2 linked regions of the Homo sapiens genome follow. The protein of the gene in region 1 interacts with the protein of each later gene in a biochemical or structural test. Each region holds a gene or a part of one and is shown on either strand. Other genes may lie near its edges.

The links. Proteins that work in one complex are often made in the same cells at the same time.
Region 2: the proteins of ABCC4 (region 1) and SHANK1 interact in a test that uses a peptide from one of them, tested with the Homo sapiens proteins (one large-scale study listed by IntAct).

Annotation. Positions count from the first base shown.
Region 1 is NC_000013.11:95,294,876-95,298,524, forward strand, and holds part of ABCC4 (ATP-binding cassette sub-family C member 4), read right to left. Parts: intron 1-3,649. UniProt on the Homo sapiens protein: ATP-dependent transporter of the ATP-binding cassette (ABC) family that actively extrudes physiological compounds and xenobiotics from cells.
Region 2 is NC_000019.10:50,706,269-50,709,917, reverse strand, and holds part of SHANK1 (SH3 and multiple ankyrin repeat domains protein 1), read left to right. Parts: intron 1-3,649. UniProt on the Homo sapiens protein: Seems to be an adapter protein in the postsynaptic density (PSD) of excitatory synapses that interconnects receptors of the postsynaptic membrane including NMDA-type and metabotropic glutamate receptors via complexes with GKAP/PSD-95 and Homer, respectively, and the actin-based cytoskeleton.

The DNA.
Region 1 (3,649 bases):
CTCCGGAGGCAGAGGTTGCAATGAGCCGAGATCACGCCACTGCACTCCAGCTTGGGCAACAAGAGTGAAACTCCATCTCAAAAATTAAAAAATTAAAAACAAAAAATAAAATAAAAATAAGGCACTCAAATGTTTGCTAAATGAATAATCTAAACCGCAGAGGATCAAGGCAGTAACCTTGGCCTCCCAGACACCGATCAAGTAGAATTGGACACCAAAGACTGAGAAAGACCTGAGAAACGTGGCTCCCAAATCTCAGCATCTGAATCAACCAGGAAATAATGCTTTAAAAAATGCAGATTTCAGGATGCTCAACCCCAAGAGACTGTGATTCTGCAGACACAGAAATTTACTATTTGGCCGGCCACAGTGACTCACACCTGCAATGTCAGCACTTTGGGAGGCCAAGGCGGGAGAATCACTTGAAGCCAAGAGTTTAAGACCAACATGGGCAACACAGCGAGACCTGGTCTCTACCAAAAATGTATTAATAAAAATTACTGGCCAGGCACAGTGGCTCGCCCCCGTAATCCCAGCACTTTGGGAGGCCGAGGTGGGTAGATCACAAGGTCAGAAGATCAAGACCATCCTGGTCAACATGATGAAATCCCATCTCTACTGAAAATACAAAAATTAGCTGGATGCAGTGGCGTGCGCTTGTAGTCCCAGCTACTCAGGAGGCTGAGACAGGAGAATCACTTGAACCCTGGAGGCAGAGATTGTAGTGACCCAAGATCACGCCACCGCACTCCAGACTGGGCAACAGAGCAAGACTCCGTCCCCCGCCCCTCAAAAAATTAGCTAGGTGTCCAGGTGCGGTGGCTCATGCTTGTAATCCCAGCACTTTGGGAGGCCAAGGAGGGCGGATCACAAGGTCAGGAGTTCAAGACCAGCCTGGCCAACATACTGAAACCCCATTTCTACTAAAAACACACAAAAAAATTAGTTGGGCATAGTGGCAGGCACCTGTAGTCCCAGCTACTTGGGAGGCTGAGGCAGGAGAATCACTTGAACCCAGGAGGCAGAGGTTGCAGTGAGCTGAGATCACACCACTGCACTCCAGCCTGGGTGACAGTGAGACTCCGTCAAAAAAAAAAAAAAAAAACACTTTAGCTAGGTGTGGTGGCGTGCACCTGTAGCTCAGCTACTTGGGAGGCTGAGCTGGAAGGATCACTTAAGCCTAGGAATTTGAGGCTACAATGAGCCATGATTGCATCACTGCACTCCCACCTGGGCAACAGAGCAAGACCCTGTCTCAAAACACACACACACACACACACACACACACACACACACACACACACACACAAAAACACAAAATTAAATGGCCAGGAATAGTGGCTCATTCCTGTAATCCCAACGCTTGGGAAAACCAAGGCAGGAGGACTGCTTGAGCCCAGGATTTTGAGACCAGCCTGGGCAACATAGTGAGACCTCATCTCTACAAGAAAAATATTTTTTTTATTATAGAAAAAGAAAATATAAAATTAAACATTTGATGCATTGACTGAGGGCCTCACACACCCTTCCTCTCTAAGCCATCCCCTGCCCTCAGCCACTTGTGTTTGCTTCTATAGTCATGTCATCAGCTCTCTAGGGCAGGTCTCCAGAGAGTCTGTCTGGTCACCAGTGGCAGTTTCCACAGCAGCACAGGCTTTGCAAGATGACACTTCACCCACTGAGATATGGCCAGCAACAGGGGAGCAAGGATTTAACCACTTTCTGTGGGCCAGATGCATCTGGAGATCCCTCTCAATGCCCATATTTAGGGAAAAGTCCTTCGTTGTTAGCCTCCACCCTGCTGCTGACCCCAGATCACCTCTGGATCAGGTGTGGGCAGAGGAATGCAAAGTGCCTGCCGGGCACCAGGGGGCAGCAGGACAATTCCTAGGAGAGTCTCAGGGATTGACCCATCTTGTGCCCAGCTGGCCACAGTTCATAGGCTATGCCACTTATTTCCACTAACGGGAAAGAGGAGGAATTATTCAATAAATGATAATGGGGAAAACGAGCTGTTTGGGGAAAAAATGGGGACTATCTCATATCAAATACCAAAAGAAATTCTAGCTGCCTTTATTGTTAGAAATGAAACAATAGCTAAAAGAAAATGGAAGGCCAGGCACAGTGGCTCACACCTGTAATCCCAGCACTTTGGGAGGCCGATGCAGGTGTATCACCTGAGGTCAGGAGTTCGAGACCAGCCTGGCCAACATGGTGAAACCCTGTCTCTACTAAAAACATGAAAATTAGCCAGGTATGGTGGTGGGCACTTGTAATCCCAGCTACTTGGGAGTCTGAAGCAGGAGAATCACTTGAACCCTGGAGGCGGAGGTTGCAGTGAGCCGAGATCACACCACGGCCAGCCTGGCAACAGAGCTAAAACTCTGTCTCATAAAAAAAAAAAAGAAAGAAAAAAGAAAGAAATAGGTGAAAATACTACCTTTAAAAATCCACAATTGCCAACAGCCATAATGCATGACTCCTTTTAGACTCCAAGTCCAAATTATGCTATAAATACACCAAAATCCCGGGAAAATACTTTGAATAAAAGTCAGTAAGCCAGTTATTGGCATCATTTAGGTAGGCAGCTGCCAGTTCACAAGTTCAGAAAGCAGATGATATTTGAGAAGAAAAGCAAACACTCAACAAGAAGGTGAAAAAGCAGTTTTTCCCTACAAGGTGGGCCCTGTCTCCAGGCAGCCACTTCCTGGATGGGCTCATTTCAGCTTTCCACTGGCAGTGGGAAGGGTACACAAATACTGACCTAAAAGCAGGAGGCTAAGGCACAAAATATAACTCAAGAATTTACTACAGACCCAGTGTGGTGGTTCATGCCTGTAATCCCAGCACTTTGGGAGGCCGAGGCAGGCAGATCGCTGGAGCTCAAACTCCTGAGCTGTGGATTACAGTGTCCTTGGGGCACTGTTAGGTTAATCTGTAGCTATGTGGCAATATGAAGTACTTTCGAGTGATAAGTAAATAGCTCAAGGGGGTGGGAACTACGAGGTGACTGCTGTGTCATTTTAATGTCTCTCTGGGCCTGATAATTTAAAAGGACTCCGCATTCCTCAGATGATGATTATTATTATTTTCTCACTATGAGGCCTCAGACTTTAAAATCCCTCAAACTGGCCCAGGCACAGTGGCTCATGCCTGTAATCCCAGCATTTTTGGAGGCCAAGGCGGGCAGATCACCTGAGGTCAGGAGTTCAAGACCAGCCTGGCCAACATGGTGCAACCCCATCTCTACCAAAAATACAAAAATTAGCTGGGTGTGAGGGTGCACGCCTATAGTCCCAGCTACTTGAGAGACTGGGGCAGGAGAATCACTTGAACCCAGGAGGCAGAGGTTGCAGTGAGCAGAGATTGCACCACTGCACTCCAGCCTGGGTGACAGAGCTGAGCAACAGAGAAAGACTCCGTCTCAAAAAAAAGAAATAAAGAAATTTTAACAATTAAAAATAAAGAAAAGCATAATACTGTAATAATACTCCAATGAAAGGAGTAGCTGGAAGCAGTAAGCGCCTCAAATCAGGATCACCTGGAGCACTTGAAACCTCACCACCCCCACCCACACACCCAGTGTTTCCAGTTTTACTGAATCAGTCCAGAGTGGATGCTGGAGAATCTGCATCTCTTAGAATCTCCC
Region 2 (3,649 bases), on another chromosome or scaffold:
AGGGTCCAGTCGAGAGACAGAAACTGTACCGTTCAGATAAACAGAGAAATTTTGGTATAGAGAATTAGACCAGGCACGGTGGCTCATGCCTGTAATCCCAACACTTTGGGAGGCTAAGGCAGGAGGATGGCTTGAGCCCAGGAGTTCGAGACCAGCCTGGGCAACGTGGGAAAACCTGGTCTCTATGAAAAAATACAAAAATTAGCTGGGCACAGTGGCATGCACCTGAAGTCCCAGCTGCTCGGGCAGCTGAGGCAGAAGGATTGCTTGAGCCTGGGAGGTGGAGGCTGCAGTGAGCTATGATCATGCCACTGCACTCCAGCCTGGGTGACAGAGTGAGACCCTGCCTTAAAAAAAAAAATTAGAATTAGACAGCAGGCAGAGTTTTCTTAGTGGGACAGTTGCACAAGTCATTTTCCCCTCCTTGATCTCCTTTCTCAGCTGTGAAATGGGTCAATAATTAATATCTACCATGCAGGCCGGGCGCAGTGGCTCACGCCTGTAATTCCAGCACTTTGGGAGGCCGAGGCGGGCGGATCACTAGGTCAGGAGATTGAGACCATCCTGGCTAACACGCTGAAATCCCGTCTCTACTAAAAATGCAAAAAAAAGTTAGCCAGGCGTGGTGGCGGGCGCCTGTAGTCCCAGCTACTCGGGAGGCTGAGACAGGAGAATGGCGTGAACCCGGGAGGCGGAGTTTGCAGTGAGCCAAGATCATGCCACTGCACTCCAGCCTGGGTGATAGAGCGAGACTCCGTCTCAAAAAAATAAATAAATAAATATCTACCATGCAAAAGGATCAAGTGGGTTAATAGGTTTGCTTGCCTTTGCCATGGGCTTAACAAACCGATGCATAACACATACGAACTTGATTCCTCCATTTCCCCCCTTGTCTTCCTCCCAGGCTTTAAGCTTTCCAAGAGCCAGGGCTGAGTCTGACAGTTTTTCCTCAGCCTCTGCCGCCTTGGCCTCCTGATATGCCCGTCTAGCATTTGGTGGTGAATGTCAGATCCGTGTCTAGGCTGTGAGCACCTCAAGGGTGGGGGTTGAGTCTGATTACTTGCTCTGTTCCAGGACCCCAGCAAACAGCAGGCCTAGTTCCATCTTTGTTGAGTGAGTGAATGAATGAATGAAAATGAGTGAATGAATGATGGGGTCAGCCCTCTTGGATTTCCACCAAGACTGTGCACAGTGCCTGGCTCAGAGCATTCAACAGGTGTTTGCTTGTTTCAACAGACTGAATGACTCAACCAATGAATGAATGACTCGAACAAATGAATTTTGACTGACTCAACCCCACATCCTCCATCCTCATCCTTTCCATGCACGTTCCTTGAGCACCTACTATGTGCACAGCACCAGGCCTTGGGGATGTGAGATGAATCAGACACAGCATCTGGCCTGGGGAGGGCGAGGGCGGGGTTGGGGGGGGTGGGAGTTCACAGTCTGGTGAGGAGGCAGACGTGTAAGCAAATCATGGCTACGACATGAGATAAGTGCTAGGATGCCGTTAAATGCGAGTTTCTCTTGGTGCCCAGGGGAGGGAGCCATCAACTCTGACTTGCACACCTTCTCAGCTTTGTAAGAGTAGGATGAGGAGCAGGTGACCTTAGGGGCTGTGCTCTGGCCCTGTGCCCCCAGTGTGGGTGTTGGGGCTGTGAAAACATGCAAAAAGCCAGGCGCGGTGCCTCACACCTGTAATCCCAGCACTTTGGGAGGCTGAAGCAGGCGGATCACGAGGTCAGGAGTTCAAGACAAGTCTGGCCAAGATGGTGAAACCCTGTCTCTACTAAAAAGACAAAAATTAGCCAGGCATGGTGGCGGGCACCTGTAATCCCAGCTACTTGGGAGGCTGAGGCAGAGAATTGCCTGAACTCAGGAAGCAGAGGTTGTAGTGAGCTGAGATCGCGCCATTGCACTCCAGCCTGGGTAACAGAGTGAGACTCCATCTCAAAAGAAAAGAAAAGAAAAGAAAAGAAAAGAAAAGAAAAGAAAAGAAAAGAAAAGAAAAGAAAAGAAAAGAAAAGAAAAGAAAAGAAAAACACGCAAAAGTACACATGGCAGGAGTTAACAGTCTAGTTGGCCAGCAGCACGGGCATACACAGACTCACATGCACACACACACTCCCAAACACACCCAGAACACACACTGGGCTAACTCTGCTGCCCGATGTGTGACTTTGGCAGTCAGAGTCGTCCATTCATAGGAGATAGGTGAACCATAGGATCAGAAGGCCAGGTGCACAGGAGGATTGCTTGAGCCCAAAAGGTGGAGGCTGCAGTGAGCCGAGATCACGCCACTGCACTCCAGCCTGGCAACAGAGCGAGACTCTGTCTCAAAAAAAAAAAAAAAGGAAGAAGAAGGCCAGGTTGTTGGAATCCTAACTGCTCCACTAACTGGTTGTGTGGCCCTGGGCGTAGCATCTGCCCTCTCTGAACCTGTCCTGTAACATAGGCCCATACAAACCCCTTGGTGGATTTGTCATGTGGAAGGGGTAAGATCAAGGAGGTGCTTGGGAAATGGTGGTTAAATTAGCATCAGAGGGCGCTGGGGTAGAGTTGAGCTGGAGGCCAAGTTGGGTTTGGCCAGGCCAAGATAAAAGGGAGAGGACACTCCTTCTACCGAATAGTCCCTGTGGGTCCAGCATTAATCCAGGTGGTGGGTGCCACAGGCAAAATCATGCCCCTGTACAACTTATGGTGTAGAGGAGAAGAGACACTACTGAGACAAATAACAGGAAATGGAATTTCAGTGAGACGGGGTTACGAAGAAAATGAGTTAACATTGGCTTAGAGTGCCTGGCACATACATCAGTGTGGTACTAAAAAATAAAGCAAAGGGTTGAGCACGGTGGCTCATGCCTGTTATCCCAGCACTTTGGGAAGCCAAGGCAGGCGGATCACCTGAGGTTGGGAGTTCGAGACCAGCCTGGACAACATGGGGAAACCCTGTCTCTACTAAAAATACAAAAATTAGCCAGACATGGTGGTGGGTGCCTGTAATCTCAGCTACTTGGGAGGCTGAGGCAGGAGAATCGCTTGAACCTGGGAGGCAGAGGTTGCAGTGAGCCGAGATCGTGTCACTGCACTCCAGCCTGGGTGACAAGAGCGAAACTCCATCTCAAAAAAATTTTAAAAATAAATAAATAAATAAAAATAAAGCAAGGAAGAGGACAAGGGTTTTTTTTTTAGACAGGATGGCCAGAGAAGACCTCTCTGAAGAGGCGGCATTTGTGCAAAAGCCTGAACGAAGTGAGGAAGCAAGCTATGCTGAGATCTAGCGGGAAAGGATTCCAAGCAGAGGGAGCAGCCGTGCAAAGGTCCTGGGGCATTAGTGTGCTGTCAGAGGAAGGAGGTGGCCAGTGTGGCTGCAGCCTGGGAGCAAGGGCAGGTGGTAGAAGATGAAGTTGGTGAGGGTCAGGGTGGGGAGTGGCAGGGCAGGCAGCTCAGGTTAGCTCAGCTAACCCTAACCCTCCTAGGCCGTGGCATGGACTTTGTGCTTAGCCCAAAAAGTGATGATGGGTGCCATGTGATTGACACCGGTGAGAAATTGATCTGAATGTAGAAGGCATCCCTGTCCCCACTGGCCCAGTCCTGCCCCCACCCTTTCCTCCACAATGTGTGTCCCCTTCCTTCTGGGCCTGGCAGA